Linked DNA regions of Homo sapiens. The protein of the gene in region 4 interacts with the protein of the main gene of each other region in a biochemical or structural test. Each region holds a gene or a part of one and is shown on either strand. Other genes may lie near its edges.

Region 1 (3,803 bases), about 25 Mb from region 4:
TCCTCCTGTATATTATCGAAGGGGATTAAGAACTTTTCAGAGAATTTAAAGGACTAAACGTGATTGCCATTTACCAAGCATTCAATACCTGCTTAGCACGAGACTGAGACAAGGTCTCTCCCTGCCTGTGCACTGCCCCCTTAGACACTGTCACATATCCAAGTCCCAGGCATTTCCTATCATTTTTATATATGGCGTTAGGCTCAGAATGCAAATCCTATATGCTATCTAACCAAGTTTTGTCTCTAGAACCACCAAATTTCAGAAGTGAAGACTTTTATTTAGCCATTACCACCCCCAGTCCCCAGAGGGACTCTTACCTATTGGGCTGATTTTTTCATCTTTTTTTTGAGATGGAGTTTCGCTCTTGCTGCTCAGGCTGCAGCGCAATGGTGCAATCCCAGCCCACCGCAACCTCCGCCTCCCAGGTTCAAGCGATTCTCCTGCCTCAGCCAGGATGGCTTTAAGTAGATTTGTAAAGAACTTTGAGACACTGTAAGGCCAAGGAATTAAGTGACTGTATTTAACACAGAAGGTATTCCATGAATAACATCAAAACAACGTGGACACTAAGAGAACACATGTAACTCATGGACGCAGGGGATGCATGTTGTCTGCATTCCTGTTTTCTGTGCCTACGTGTGCTCCACCCCACACCTGCTGAGTACATGCTGGGAAGACCATGTCAACCCTTGGAGCAGCTAGTGTTTAACCATCTCCTGCTAGCGCCTCATGTTTTACATTTTGGCACTAACTGTCATCCAGATACTCCCCTTTCCCCCTAAATAAGACACTGTCACACAATATCTTTTAACTCATCTGTATTTGTTACAACTTTAAGCAGAATGTGACTCGAGCACTACATTTCCATCCACAAGACTGGGTCTGAGTTATTTTTGAACAGCTTTACGATATGCTTAGGTAGGCTTTTAACTTTGCTCCTCCAAACAATACTTTTCTTTGGAAAACAAGCCCTGTGGAGAGATCCTTCCATCAAGTTGCTTCAGTTTAACCTATTTCTAGAGGACTAGTACATGCAGAATTGTCAACTACAGGGAATGAAAAGTTCAAAAAGTAGATCCTACAAGATGTAACGAATACTTTTCTAAACATCAAGATACAGCTCAGAACACTTCAATAACAAGATTTGGTCTACTTAGGCATCCGGCTTGACAGCTAAACACTTTAGACCACAAAGTTAACATCATGTTACATACGTCTTACAGTGCACGTTACCCCAATCTGTGAAAATAAACCAACATGAAACTCAAAAAGCATTACTAGCTCTGCTTTAGTGCCTAAGGTATCACAGCATCACTTAGTAGACAGAAATCTTATCTTCCCCTTAAAGTAGTTGTCATGCCATACAGACTTTTTAATATTAACAAAAATAAAGAAAAACATCCTTGAAAATATATTATCAGAGGAATTGTAGAGTACTGAACAGGTAAGTCATCCCTCAGCCAGAGATTAGTCTACTTCTTCCATGCGTGATGTGTCGTCATCTCCTTCAAGGGGTGGCATTTCTTCAGTTACAGCAGCACTGGTATCATCAGCAGTAGGGTCATCTTCATCAATACCTGTTTCCAAAATAAAATCCTCATATTACAAAGATTTCTTAAAGCCAGCTATTAGGGTAATACTCTTGGTTTCTATCTGCTTTCAAGACAGTATTACAGGACATATGAGTCTCAATTTCATTTCTTTGCTCTTGTAAGACCTTACTTATCCCTAAAAAAAACATACTTTAATACCTCCAAGCAGCAAGCAGGACAAGGTGCTCCAAGTTTGGATAACTGAAAGTTCACCATTTTCTTCAATGTCACGTGTGTTTATTTTCTTTTTAACATTACATAGTATAAGGCTTACCCAGACCAAGTTTGATCATCCTGTAGATCCTGTTAGCATGTGTCTGGGGATCTTCCAGACTGAAGCCAGAAGACAGGAGCGCAGTTTCATAAAGCAAGATGACCAGATCCTTCACAGACTTGTCGTTCTTATCAGCCTCTGCCTTTTGCCTTAAGGTCTCAATAATGGAATGGTCAGGGTTTATCTCCAGGTGTTTCTTTGCTGCCATGTAACCCATTGTTGAGTTGTCTCTTAGGGCTTGAGCTTTCATGATTCTCTCCATGTTTGCTGTCCAGCCATATGTGCTTGTGACAATACAGCATGGAGATGTCACCAATCGGTTTGACACAACCACCTGTAATCAAAAAGTGATGACTAGGAACCTAGAAAGATTAATTCCTAAACTTTCATTGTGAAATGAAATCTGTAGAACCCAAATTTCAATAGATCCAAAATACTATCTACTGTCAAATACAACTTAAATGTCGCATTAGGTATCCAAAGAGCACAGGTTATAATTTCATGTTTTACATGCACAATTTTTTTTTTGAGATAGAGTCTCGCTCCATCACCCAGGCTGGAGTGCAGTGGTGCGATCTTGGCTCACTGCAACCTCCGCCTCCTGGGTTCAGGCGATTCTCCTGCCTCAGCCTCCCAAGTGGCTAGGATTACAGGCCGTGCCACCACGCCTGGTTTATTTTTTTCTATTTTTAGTAGAGACTGAGTTTCACCGTGTTAGCCAGGATGGTCTCGATCTCCTGACCTTGTGATCCGCTGCCTCAGCCTCCCAAAGTGCTGGGATTGCAGGCGTGAGCCACCGCGCCCAGCCACACACAACATAGTTTTCTGTTTTAAGTTGAAAACATGCGAAAATGGGCTATGTATGACTAAGCTTGAAAGCACCTTAGAAGTATCAATGATCAGGAAATGCTGTATTCACATACCTTTTCAACTTTTTTCTCCAATATGTCTTTCATGATTTTGCAGAGGTTCTCAAACTTTGTTTTTTTCTCTTCCTGCTTCTTTTTCTCTTCTTCATCCTCTGGAAGTTCCAGGCCTTCTTTGGTGACTGACACTAAAGTCTTCCCCTCAAATTCCTTCAGCTGTTGGACACAGTACTCATCAATGGGCTCAATCATATAGATCACTTCTAAGCCATGTTTCCGAAGACGTTCCACAAAGGCTGAGTTAGCTACCTGGTCCTTGGTCTCACCTGAGGTATTACAAAGTTACTTTTAGACCTTTTAACAGTTAAGAATGGTTTCATCTAGCTCTGACTTTTCTTGCTAGCCAGATACCTAGGCAGAACCTAAGACAGAAAATGACCTAGTTCATGTTAATTATCTTGCCTAGATCAATACCAGTTGTAACAGTGCTACCTGAGTAGAAAACACACCCACAGAGCCTACAAGATTGTAAGAACGACGTGTATGACTGTAACATAGTGTTCTCTTACCTGTGATATAATAGATATGTTTCTGGTTCTCCTTCATTCTGGTGCAGTAGTCCTTGAGAGAAACCATCTCATCACCAGAGGCAGATGTGTAGTACCTTAACAGCTCTGAAAGCTTCTTCCGATTTTGAGAGTCTTCGTGTATTCCAAGCTGAAACAAAGTATGTTCTTTACAAAGACTTTCTGAATTAAAAAAAAAAAAAAAAAACTAAAGAGGCCAATTGGAAAACTAATGGTTATTTACACCAACCTTTATGTTTTTAGAGAACTGCTCATAGAATTTCTTGTAGTTCTCTTTATCTTCCGCCAGTTCAGTAAAGAGTTCTAAGCATTTTTTGACCAAATTCTTCCTGATAACTTTCAAAATTTTGCTTTGTTGCAACATCTCACGGGATATGTTTAGAGGGAGATCCTCCGAGTCTACCACCCCTCTAATGAAGTCTGAAAAAAATATAAACCAAATGCACTGAGTCATTCCAAGGACAAAACTGGTACTATGTAA
Region 2 (3,500 bases), on a different chromosome or scaffold from region 4:
CACCGCACCCCAGCCTGGGCAACAGAGCAAGACTCCATCTCAAAAAAAAAAAAAAAAAAAAAAAAAAAAATTCGCCAGGCGTGGTGGTGCATGCCTGTAATCTCAGCTACTCAGGAGGCTGAGTCAGGAGAATCGCTTGAACCTGGGAAGTGGAGGTTACGGTGAGCCGAGATCAGGCCATTGCACTCCAGCCTGGGCAACAAGAGTGAAACTCGGTCTCAAAAAAAAAAAAAAAAAAAAAAAGTGCTGGTTCACACCTGTAATCCCAGCACTTTGGGAGGCAGAGGCAGGCGGATCACGAGGTCAGGAGTTCGAGACCAGCCTGGCCAATATAGTAAAACCCCGTCTCTACTAAAATTGCAAAAATTAGCTGGGCGTGGTGGCACGTACCTGTAGTCCCAGCTATTTGGGAGACTGAGCCAGGCCAATCAGTTGAACCCAGGAGGTAGAGGTTGCAGCGAGCCAAGATCACGCCACTGCACTCTAGTCTGGGTGACAGAGCAAGACTCTGTCTCAAAAAAGAAAAAGAAAAAGAAAAAGAAAAAAAGCCTTAGCAAGCTATATGATCATGTCCCAGATAAAACAAATTTAAATTATCAAAACCTGTGGTTAGGCCATGAACCAAAAATGATTCCTACATTTTTTAAATGTATATTTTTAAAAAAACACAGGAGGCGGAAGTTGCAGTGAGCCAAGATCACACTACTGCACTCTAGCCTAGGCAACAGAATGAGACCAAAAAAAAAAAAAAAAAAAATGTGAATGAGATAAGAGATATTTGTGGCCTGCAAAGCTGAATATTTACTGGCTGACCCTTTATACAAGTTGGCTAACACATTAAAACTACAAACAGGGCCGAGTGCGGTGGCTCACGCCTGTAATCTCCAGCACTTTGGGAGGCTGAGATGGGTGCATCACCTAAGGTCAGGAGTTCAGAGACCAGCCTGGCAAACATTATGAAACCCCATCTCTACTAAAAATACAAAAAATTAGCTGGGTGTGGTGATGGGCACCTGTAATCCCAGCTACTCAGGATGCTGCAGCAGGAGAATCGCTTGAAATAAGGAGGTGGAGGTTGCAGTGAGCCCAGACCACGCCATTGCACTCCAGCCTGGACAACAGCGTGAAACTCCGTCTCAAAACACAACACAAAAACTGCAGACCAGGCGCAGTGACTCAAGCCCATGATCCCAGCACTTTGTGAGGCCAAGGCTGATGGATCACCTGGGGCTGGGAGTTTGAGACCAGTCTGACCAACGTGGAGAAACCCCGTCTCTACTAAAAATACAAAATTAGCCAGGCGAGGTGGCGTATGCCTGTAATACCAGCTATTTGGGAGGCTGGGAGGGGGAGGGGGAGGGGGAGGTGGAGGTGGAGGTTGCGGTAAGCCGAGATCACGCCACTGCACTACAGCCTGGGCAACAGAGAGAGGCTGTGTCTCCCCCCCCAAAAAAAAAAAAAAAGCCAAAATAGGATTGGAACCCAGCATTTCTGACAGAAGGCTTATTTTTTTTCACTTCACAAAAAGGGACAATAATTTCTCCAGCGGTCCTTTTATTGCAAAGTAACTAACCATGTCTCTGTACTTCCAGTTTGTTTTATTATATAATCTAAACTAGCTTCTGCATACTTGACAACATGATAATGGAGTCCTGAGAGTCTAAAATTTGTTATGGAGGCAGTGAGAGAGTGATATTTGACCTTGAGTCTTTCTTGAACAAAGAAAAATTCTTTTATCTCCTGGGGATGTTAAAAGAAGAATGCTTCAGGGTCTAAAACCAAAGCAAGAAAGTAATTTTTTTAAAAAAAGAGTGCTCAAAAGACGGAATGTGGAAAGCCACAAGAGTTGCTTGATAGAAAAGTGCTAAGTGGGTATGCGTGGTGGTTCATGCCTATAATCCCAGCACTTTGGGAGGCCAAGGCAGGTAAATCACTTGAAGTCAGCCTGGACAACATGGTGAAACCCCATCGCTACTAAAAATACAAAAATTAGACAGGCATGGTGGCGCGCTCCTATAGTCCCAGCTACTTGGGAGGCTGAAGCACAAGAATCCTTGAACCCGGTGGTGGAGGTTGCAGTGAGCTGAGATCGTGCCACTGCACTGCAGCCTGGGTGAGAGAGTGAGATTCCGACTCAAAAAAAAAAAAAAAAAAAAAAAAAATAGTGCTGGCTAAGTGCGGTGGCTTATGGCAGTAATCTCAGCACTTTGGGAGGCTGAGGTGAGCAGGTCACCTGATGTCAGGAGTTCAAGACCAGCCTGGCCAACCACCGTGGTGAAATCCCGTCTCTACTAAAAATGTAAAAATTAGCTGGGCATGGTGGTGCACACCTGTGATCCCAGCTACTAGGATGGCTGAGGCGGGAGAATTGCTTGAACATGAAAGGCAGAGGTTGCAGTAAGCCAGATAGCGCCACTGCACTCTAGCCTGGGCGACAGAGTGAGACTCCTTCTCCGCACCACCCAAAAAAAAAAAAAAAAGTGCTACATTTTCCATAAAACATTACCTTGAACAGCTTTCACCTTTGTATCTTAGAGTGGAAACTACCACATAAAATAACTCGCTAGGACAGAGGTTCACAAGCCTTCCTGGTATATAGTGCCCTTGGTGTCTGAGGAGTTTTGTTGTGCTCTTAAGCCAAAAGGAGTAACTAGCAGTTGCTTTGATGACATAGCTGTATCCAAGCAACATAACTATATTGTCTTAGCAGCCTAGTAGCTATTGGAAAAACGAATTTACATTATTGGAAAGAAAAATATATATAGTTTCTTATATAACCATACCTATCAATGGAATGTGTATGGCTTTTGGATACTATATAACTTCTCAAACTTTGAAATGACTTCTATCATCTCACTCCTTGTTCCCCATTATTATTATTATTTTTTTTTGGTGGGGTGGGTACCTGTGTTTTTTTGAGTTATAGCAACCACCAGAAATTCAGTTTTTAGAAGATGAAACTTAATGGAGGGGTTTGCAGTACAATCTCATATTGAAACTGAACAACCTGAAACTAATAGTTTGCTTAGTGTCTTGGCTTATGTTGAGTATCACTGAATTACTCTGAAATTTAAAATATCCCAAGGTAGTTGTGAGTTCCTCCATGGGGCCCTGATACATCTTGGCACATGATTTGGTAGCCACAGGCCACAGGACTAGCAGGTTTATTCAGAAAGTTTTATAGTACTACAGCTGATTACAGAAGATCTCAAATATCTTACGGTTTCCCTGAGCAATGAGTATGTGGGAGACAGCTTGGTGTCAGACATTTATAGGCAAGGTGTTTGATACCTAAGAAGGAAAAACCATTTATGAACTCCAGGAACTACTTTTTTCCTTTCCATAGCAGAACTTTGATGTCTCATTCCTCACATATTACAAATAGGTATTTTTAATTTATTTATTATTTTTGAGATGGAGTCTGGCTCTGTCGCCCAGGTTGGAGTGCAGTGGCGTGATCTCGGCTCACAGCAGCTTCTGCCTCCTGGGTTCAAGCAGTT
Region 3 (3,500 bases), about 27 Mb from region 4:
GTGCCCAGCTGGTCGGCATGCGTGGGGTGGCATGAGGGGCCCCAGAGTCGGAGGCAGAGCCAGGAGAGGCGTCCACTTCACACCTGGTGGCCTACTGGGCTCAGCGGGGAGTCCAGGCTTACAGGGAACACATGGCTGCGGCCCCAGCTCAGAGCATGGGGTTCAGGGAAGGGTGGGGTAACATTGCCCAAGCCTGGCAGGGCTCAGCAACCCCAGTTTTCCTCTGACATGGGGAAGAGGACCCACCTGGGAAGCAGCTGCGCCCTACATGGAAAACCGGCCTAGGTGGAGATGCCGTGGAGTGCTGAGTGTCTCCTGGGCCGAGCTGGGACCCCATGACCCACCCAGCCCTCCACAGTCCAAGGCAGCCCCAGGCACAGGCAGAAGTGGGGACAGGCCTCACCACGCGGTGCTTGGGCTTGGCCAGGGACACCTCCATCTCTTCAGCCCCTGAGTTGTCACTGGGTGAGCCCGACCGGAAGTCCATCTCCTCCTCCTCCTGCTTCTTGAGGCCGTCAGCCACAGTCTGGATGGCGGTTGTCCACTCCTCCCTGCAGGAGGTCAGGTGAGGCTGCAGGCCTGTACCAGATCAGGAGCTCCACCCCACGTCTTTCACCCACCCGCCAGCCTCACAAGCGTGGTTCCACAGCTGTCGGGGTTCCCAGAGACAGCCCTGAGGAGGCCACCACTTGACCTGGTCTGGCCACATACACTCAGGGTCACGAAGCCCTCTTGGACGTGGGGGACACCCAGGCTTAGCCCCCCAGCAGGACTCTGTCCCCACAACCGGACTCCAACCCCCAGCAGGACTCCGCCCCCCAGCAGGACTCCGCCCCCCCCAAGCAGGACTCCGCCTCCCAAGCAGGACTCCGCCCCCCAAGGAGGACTGGCCCTCTCCACCGGGTTTTTCTTTTTTTGAGACGGAGTCTTGCTCTATCGCCCTGGCTGGAGTGCAGTGGTAAAATCTCGGCTCCTGCAGCCTCTGCCTCTCGGGTTCAAGCGATTCTTGTGCCTCAGCCTCCCAAGTAGCCGGGATTACAGGTGTGCACCACCACACCCAGCTAAGTTTTATATTTTTAGTAGAGACGGGGGTTTCACCATGTTGGCAGGCTAGTCTCAAACTCCTGGTCTCAAGTGATCTGCGCACCTCGGCCTCCCAAAGTGCCGAGATTATAGACGTGAGCCACTGCACCCGGTCCCTAGCCAGTTTTTATCTCCAGCCTCAGTTTCCCCACCCAAACCCCACAGGCAGGACTGGGCCAGTTTCCAAACTGGGCTCTGAGGAGGGCCTGGGAGCACTGGGGAGTGAGGATGGCTACAGGCAGAGGTGCCAGCACCCCGCCATCCCCGTGTCCCTCCTAAGCGCTGGGGCTGCCCAAGTGCCTGGCCTGGCCGCCACAGCCCACGTACCGCTCCTCAGGAGTCTCCACATGGAAGGTGCGTTCGATGACAGTGGTCCACTGCAGGCAGCGGATGATGAAGGTGTTGGGCCGGGGCCGCTCCGTCTTCATCAGCTGGCACTCTGCGGGCAGGCAGAGCCTCTGTCTGCGTGCATCCCCCTGCCCCTCCCAGGGCCCTCACCACAGCCCCCGCTGCACCAGCCAGCTCCCCTTGCATACCACCCACCAGGTCCTGGGAAGCCCCATCTCTTCCTCTCTCCAAGCCTCAGTTTCTCGCCTCACAGAGTGGGGCTAGGACCCCTGTTCCAGCTCAGACACTCTACTCCAGGCTGAGGCAGCCACACAGGGCATCTGGCCCGGCGTCAGGTCAAACCCCCACCATCGTCCACTCCTACAGTCCTTCCTTCAGTCTCTGAGCCCCGCCGTGCGCCAGGCCTCAGAGGATGAGGGGTATGGAGATCCCACAGAGGGGCTGGCATGAGGGGGGCACCCCAGAAACCTGCTTGTCCCACCTAGTGTAGAAATGTCCTGCTTTTTTCCCAACCTCACCCTGAGTACCTGGGAAATACAGCCACCTGGAGCACACCCACACCTGGGGCACACCCACACCTGGGGCACAGGCACACCTGGGGCACAGCCACACCTGGGGCACAGGCACACCTGGGGCACAGCCACACCTGGGGCACACATACATCTGGGGCACACACACACTGGAGGCAAAGCCACACCTGGGGCACACGCACACCTGAGGCACACACCTGGGGCACACGCACACCTGGGACACAGCCACACTGGAATACACAGACATCTAGAACACATCTAGACACCTAGCCACATCTGGGGCACACGAACACCTGGGGCACACGCACACCTGGGGCACAGCCACACCTGGGGCACAAGCACACCTGGGGAACACATACCTGGGGCACAGCCACACCTACAGCACGTACACCCTGAGGGCTGTGGGAACGTGCGGGGCCCTGAGAGGTGTGAGTGAGTGGAGTGTGTAGCCGCTGGGGCTCCGTGGCAGGCTCTGGCCCAGCCTGTGCAAAGCAGGAGGAGGCTGAGGGGCCAGTGGGGGGCCTCTGACATTCCAGCATCGAGGCCCTGGCAACCACAAGGGGGCCTGGCCAGGCAGCAAGGAAGCTGTCTTCCAGGCCTGGGGGCCAGGAGGGGGCTCGGGACCAGCCTGGTGGGGAGGGTGGCCTGTGTCAACACAGGCCAGAGAAGTGGAAACCGGTGTGAAGCCCCGGCACACCCACCTCCCACTCGCTCCTGGATGGTCCGATCTGCCCCAGTATGCAATCCCCAGGGCCAGAGTCTCGAGCCCACTGCCCCGGAACCGTTCCCCGGAGAAAAGCCCCGGACAGAGGCCCAGCACAGCCCCTGGCCCCTGCCCAGCTCTGCTCCTTGGCCAGGCGCTCCAGGCCACTCACCTATGGCCTAATCTGAAGGCCCCAGCCTTGCCAGCTGCTCAGGCAACACCTCCAGCTGGTACCCACCCGTGTGCCTCTCCAGAGAGCTCCCCACCTCGTTCCTTCCCAATGCCTCGGCCTGGCGAGCACACCCACAGCACCCACCCCCAGCAAGGCCCTGTCCCAGGTGCCACCAGGCACGCTGCTGGCACCCAGCCTCTCCCTGATCCCTGAAGCCCCCAGCCCCAACCGAGGAGACACTGGGGAGGGTGTGGGACAAGTCACAGTGAGTCTCCTGCATGGTTACGAGGCTGTCAGGAGACAGGGGTGTCTGCCTTCCTGGTCTCCCCTCACCCCTGGGGTGCCCTACTCTATCAGGCTGCCCTGCTACTGCTGGCTTGAGGCTGGAAGAGCCAGGGAAGGAGACCTCGGCTTACAGGAACCAGGTCCTGGTAAACCCCACCCCAACCCCAGCCCCTCAGCCTGGGGCTTTGCAGGGCAAGGCCTCTGCCCCTCCCAACTAGAAGCTTCAGGGCACGGTTTGCTGGCCACAGACCACCTAGCAGCCAGGGTGCCAGACTGACCCCACCTCCCCTTATACGTGCAGGCACCAAGGGTGGGAGTCCTTCCCTGCCCAGCCTGGGGACGGATTCCCTGCATTTAACCTCCTCCCAGACCCTGGACC
Region 4 (3,500 bases):
AAGATAAAATTCCAGCTCATGGAAGTTACTTCTTAGTAGCTGAGATCTGGAGTTTCATTACAGCTTGACAAACACAGCCATCCTACCACAGAATGAGGTTATGACCAGAAAAGGAAGAGGCTATTTTTACATCTTTACTTTTGGCCTATGCCAGACTGGTACCTGGGTATATGCTATAGAATACAGTATGTTCACTGGGATTATTATTATTTTTTTTTTGAGATGGAGTCTTGCTCTGTCACCAGGCTGGAGTGCAGCCTGCACTCCAACTCACTGCAACCTCTGACTCCCTGGTTCAAGCTATTCTCCTGCCTCAGCCTCCTGAGTAGCTCGGATTATAGGCGTGCACCACCATGCCCAGCTAATTTTTGTATTTTTAGTAGAGACGGGGTTTCACCATGTTGGCCAGGATGGTCTTGATCTCCTGACCTTGTGATCTACTAGCCTCGGCCTCCAAAAGTGCTGGGATTACAGGTGTGAGCCACTGCACCTGGCCACTGGGATTATTTTTAAAAGCTTATCCTGACTCAACTGGAAACATTATAACATATTAAGTGCATGTGAGGTCTACTATGGAAGGATGGCGTGAACGCCGTGGCACTTTGATGACTTCAAGAGTGGGTAATCTACCCAGCACCTATGGATGCATGGTTAGTGCCTTTCCTCCACTCTGCCTTACCTCTGCAGAAAAGCCACAACTAGTTATGGCACTGGTGTACTGGTCCTCCCCAAAAAGGTGTCTATCACCTTCCATCACCTTCTTTGATGGTTATTATACATATTCCAACACCAAGATCAGAATACACTGGCAGAAATGGAATCCCAGGGGAAAGCTGAGCTGACTTCTATTCTAAGCATCTAAATATCCCTGGAGAGTGCATATCAAAGATAGTCCAGACTGTATTCAAGTAATGAGTCCAGAGATGCCAAGTCTTTAGATTAGCGCTGTCCATTAGAAATATAATGTGAGCCTCAAATACAGTTTTTTTTTTGTTTTTTTTTTTTTTGAGATGGAGTCTCCCTCTGTCACCCAGGCTGGAGTGCAATGGCGCGTTCTTGGCTCACCGCAACCTTTACCTCCTGGGTTCAAGCAATTCTCCTGCCTCAGCCTCTTGAGTAGCTGGGATTACAAGCATGCACCACCATGCCCGGCTAATTTTGTATTTTTAGTAGAGATGGGGTTTCTCTATTGGTCAGGCTGGTCTCGAACTCCCGACCTCAGGTGATCCGCCCACCTCGGCTTCCCAAAGGGCTGGGATTATAGGTGTGAGCCACTGTGCCCAGCCCGTAGTGTAATTTATACTCACAGCACATCTCTTGTGTTTTTTGGTCATCCAGGCTGGAGTGCAGTGGCATGATCTCAGCTCAATGCAACCTCCCTGCCTCCTGGGCTCAAGCCACTCTCCCACCTCAGCCTCCCGAGTAGCTGGGATTACAGGCATGGGCCACCGCATCCAGCTAATTTTTGTATTTTTTGTAGAGACAGGGTTTCGCCATGTTGCCCAGGCTGGTCTCAAATTCCTGAGCTCAGGCAATCAGCCCACCTCAGCATCCAACAGTGCTGGGATTACAAGTGTGAGCCACCGCGCCAGGCCATCACAGTACATTTCAGTTTGGTCTAGCCACATCTAAAATGCTCAACCATCATTATTAGGCAACACAGCTCCAGATCTTTCCCTTACTCCGAGCTTATGGACTGACTTTAAGATGAAATAAGCCCCCTCCCCCCAAATCTTTACCCATTTGCCAAAGAAAGGACTGTCCAGGCCCTTAACCAGAGTCTAACAGGTGGAAACTACCTCCTTAAGGCATACAGAACTACTCAAGGGATACCTGTTTTGAGGGTGCTGATGTAAATTCCCATTGCTTCTCTTAGAAGTTTCACCCCTTCTTCCTTCATTAAGGCCACGAGATTTGTGTCAGGCTCATCTTTGGCAAGGCTCACACTAATCTGGGTGAAAGATGAGAAGTAGGTGGTAAATAACTTGAGGGGCACCCTCATTATGGAATGTGGGGGCTGAGCAATCAGGTGACTGCTGACATTTCCAAAGGAAATGCATGAGTACTGCGGTATTCGTACAATCCCCATTAGTGTTCCTTCTTGAGTCCTCTCTGTCAAGTGGCTAATGTTAGTTAGAACCCATGTCACTAGCTAAAGTGAAGAAATTAAAGAAGTGCAAATTGCTCTAGAAGTTTCCAATGGCACCATATGCCTAGAAAATTATCTGCAGGCTAGGGTTCTGAATGCTTGGACCAAGCCTGGGCTATGAATCCTGAATGACAGGTCACTTTTCTCATCTGAGAATAAGAGGATATAGAGGACTCGGATTAGGAGTTATGAAGCACAAACCTCCACTTCATCCACGCTGTTTTCATCAGACAAATTGGGGATCTCCACATGTCCTTTGTATTGTACTCCTGACTTAGAAGTACCTGTCAAAACCAATGCAATGTCATTAGTCCACTCCTTGGCAGGAAAGGTCTCTGCTCCAGGGTCCTAACTGCTACCTCACTTCTGCTGCTTTTGGATGGCTGAACTGATCCTCTTTATTCTGAGAATGCCACATGCCAGATGCAATCAACACCCGCACCCCCAAAAGAAATGTCTTTCCTCACCAGGTTACTGGAAACCAACTATGTTATTACAATGTGAGACAAAGAGCTACAGATTTGGTACTAGCATGAGTTATACCATGAGAACTTGGGTCAAAAGCCAGTAGTTCTGCTAGAATACTTGTTTTGAAAATATCAATTTATTTCAGTGCAACTGAAATATTAGGGAACAATTTGATTATAATGAGAAGTTCATGTTTGCTTATATGTGACTCCATCCATGAGAAACACTAGGTGAATACGGAAAGCCTCACCCAGCTACACAGGATACATAAAACACACACATCTCAAACACCTATCTGCCAATGACCTCAGTTTACAGCGTGTGTTGTGAGCCATACCCATCCTCAACGAGTGTAATGTTCCCTCTGATTGTGGATGACTCTCCTTCTACCATTCCATAGTAGTCCTCAAGCTGCAACCCTTCTGATGCCCACCTTTTCCCCCCGCAAGACAGAGTCTTGCTCTGTCGCTCAGGCTGGATTGCAGTGGCATGATCTTGGCTCATTGCAACCTCCACCTCCCAGGTTCAAGCAATTCTTCTGCTTCAGCCTCCCAAGTAGCTGGGATTACAGGTGCGTGCCACTACACACGGCTAATTTTTGTATTTTTTAGTAGAGATGGGGTTTCACCATGTTGGCCAGGTGTGTCTCCAATTCCTGACCTCGTGATCCACCTGCCTCAGTCTCCCAAAGTGCTGAGATTACAGGCGTGAGCCGCCGCGCCTGGCTTTGATGCCCACTTTCACAAATAAACTTCAGGTCTTTTTCATGGTAAAGCACCATATTTATTGTAGTATTCACCTATTTTTTATTTTTTTTGAGATGGAGTCTCACTCTGTTGCCCAGGCTGGAGTGCAACGGTGCGATCCCAGCTCACTGCAACCT

Evidence for each region. Proteins that work in one complex are often made in the same cells at the same time.
Region 1: the proteins of AHSA1 (region 4) and HSP90AA1 form a complex in vitro, tested with the Homo sapiens proteins (4 studies listed by BioGRID).
Region 2: the proteins of AHSA1 (region 4) and PTGES3 form a complex in vitro, tested with the Homo sapiens proteins (one study listed by BioGRID).
Region 3: the proteins of AHSA1 (region 4) and AKT1 form a complex in vitro, tested with the Homo sapiens proteins (one study listed by BioGRID).

What each region holds. Positions count from the first base shown.
Region 1 is NC_000014.9:102,080,242-102,084,044, forward strand, and holds the end of HSP90AA1 (heat shock protein HSP 90-alpha), read right to left. Parts: intron 3,743-3,803; coding exon 3,552-3,742; intron 3,453-3,551; coding exon 3,305-3,452; intron 3,062-3,304; coding exon 2,793-3,061; intron 2,204-2,792; coding exon 1,870-2,203; intron 1,581-1,869; coding exon 1,471-1,580; 3' UTR 501-1,470; downstream 1-500. UniProt on the Homo sapiens protein: Molecular chaperone that promotes the maturation, structural maintenance and proper regulation of specific target proteins involved for instance in cell cycle control and signal transduction.
Region 2 is NC_000012.12:56,674,785-56,678,284, forward strand, and holds part of PTGES3 (prostaglandin E synthase 3), read right to left. Parts: intron 1-3,500. UniProt on the Homo sapiens protein: Cytosolic prostaglandin synthase that catalyzes the oxidoreduction of prostaglandin endoperoxide H2 (PGH2) to prostaglandin E2 (PGE2).
Region 3 is NC_000014.9:104,775,249-104,778,748, forward strand, and holds part of AKT1 (RAC-alpha serine/threonine-protein kinase), read right to left. Parts: intron 1,523-3,500; coding exon 1,411-1,522; intron 552-1,410; coding exon 404-551; intron 1-403. UniProt on the Homo sapiens protein: AKT1 is one of 3 closely related serine/threonine-protein kinases (AKT1, AKT2 and AKT3) called the AKT kinase, and which regulate many processes including metabolism, proliferation, cell survival, growth and angiogenesis.
Region 4 is NC_000014.9:77,461,093-77,464,592, reverse strand, and holds part of AHSA1 (activator of 90 kDa heat shock protein ATPase homolog 1), read right to left. Parts: intron 2,434-3,500; coding exon 2,351-2,433; intron 1,952-2,350; coding exon 1,834-1,951; intron 1-1,833. UniProt on the Homo sapiens protein: Acts as a co-chaperone of HSP90AA1. Activates the ATPase activity of HSP90AA1 leading to increase in its chaperone activity.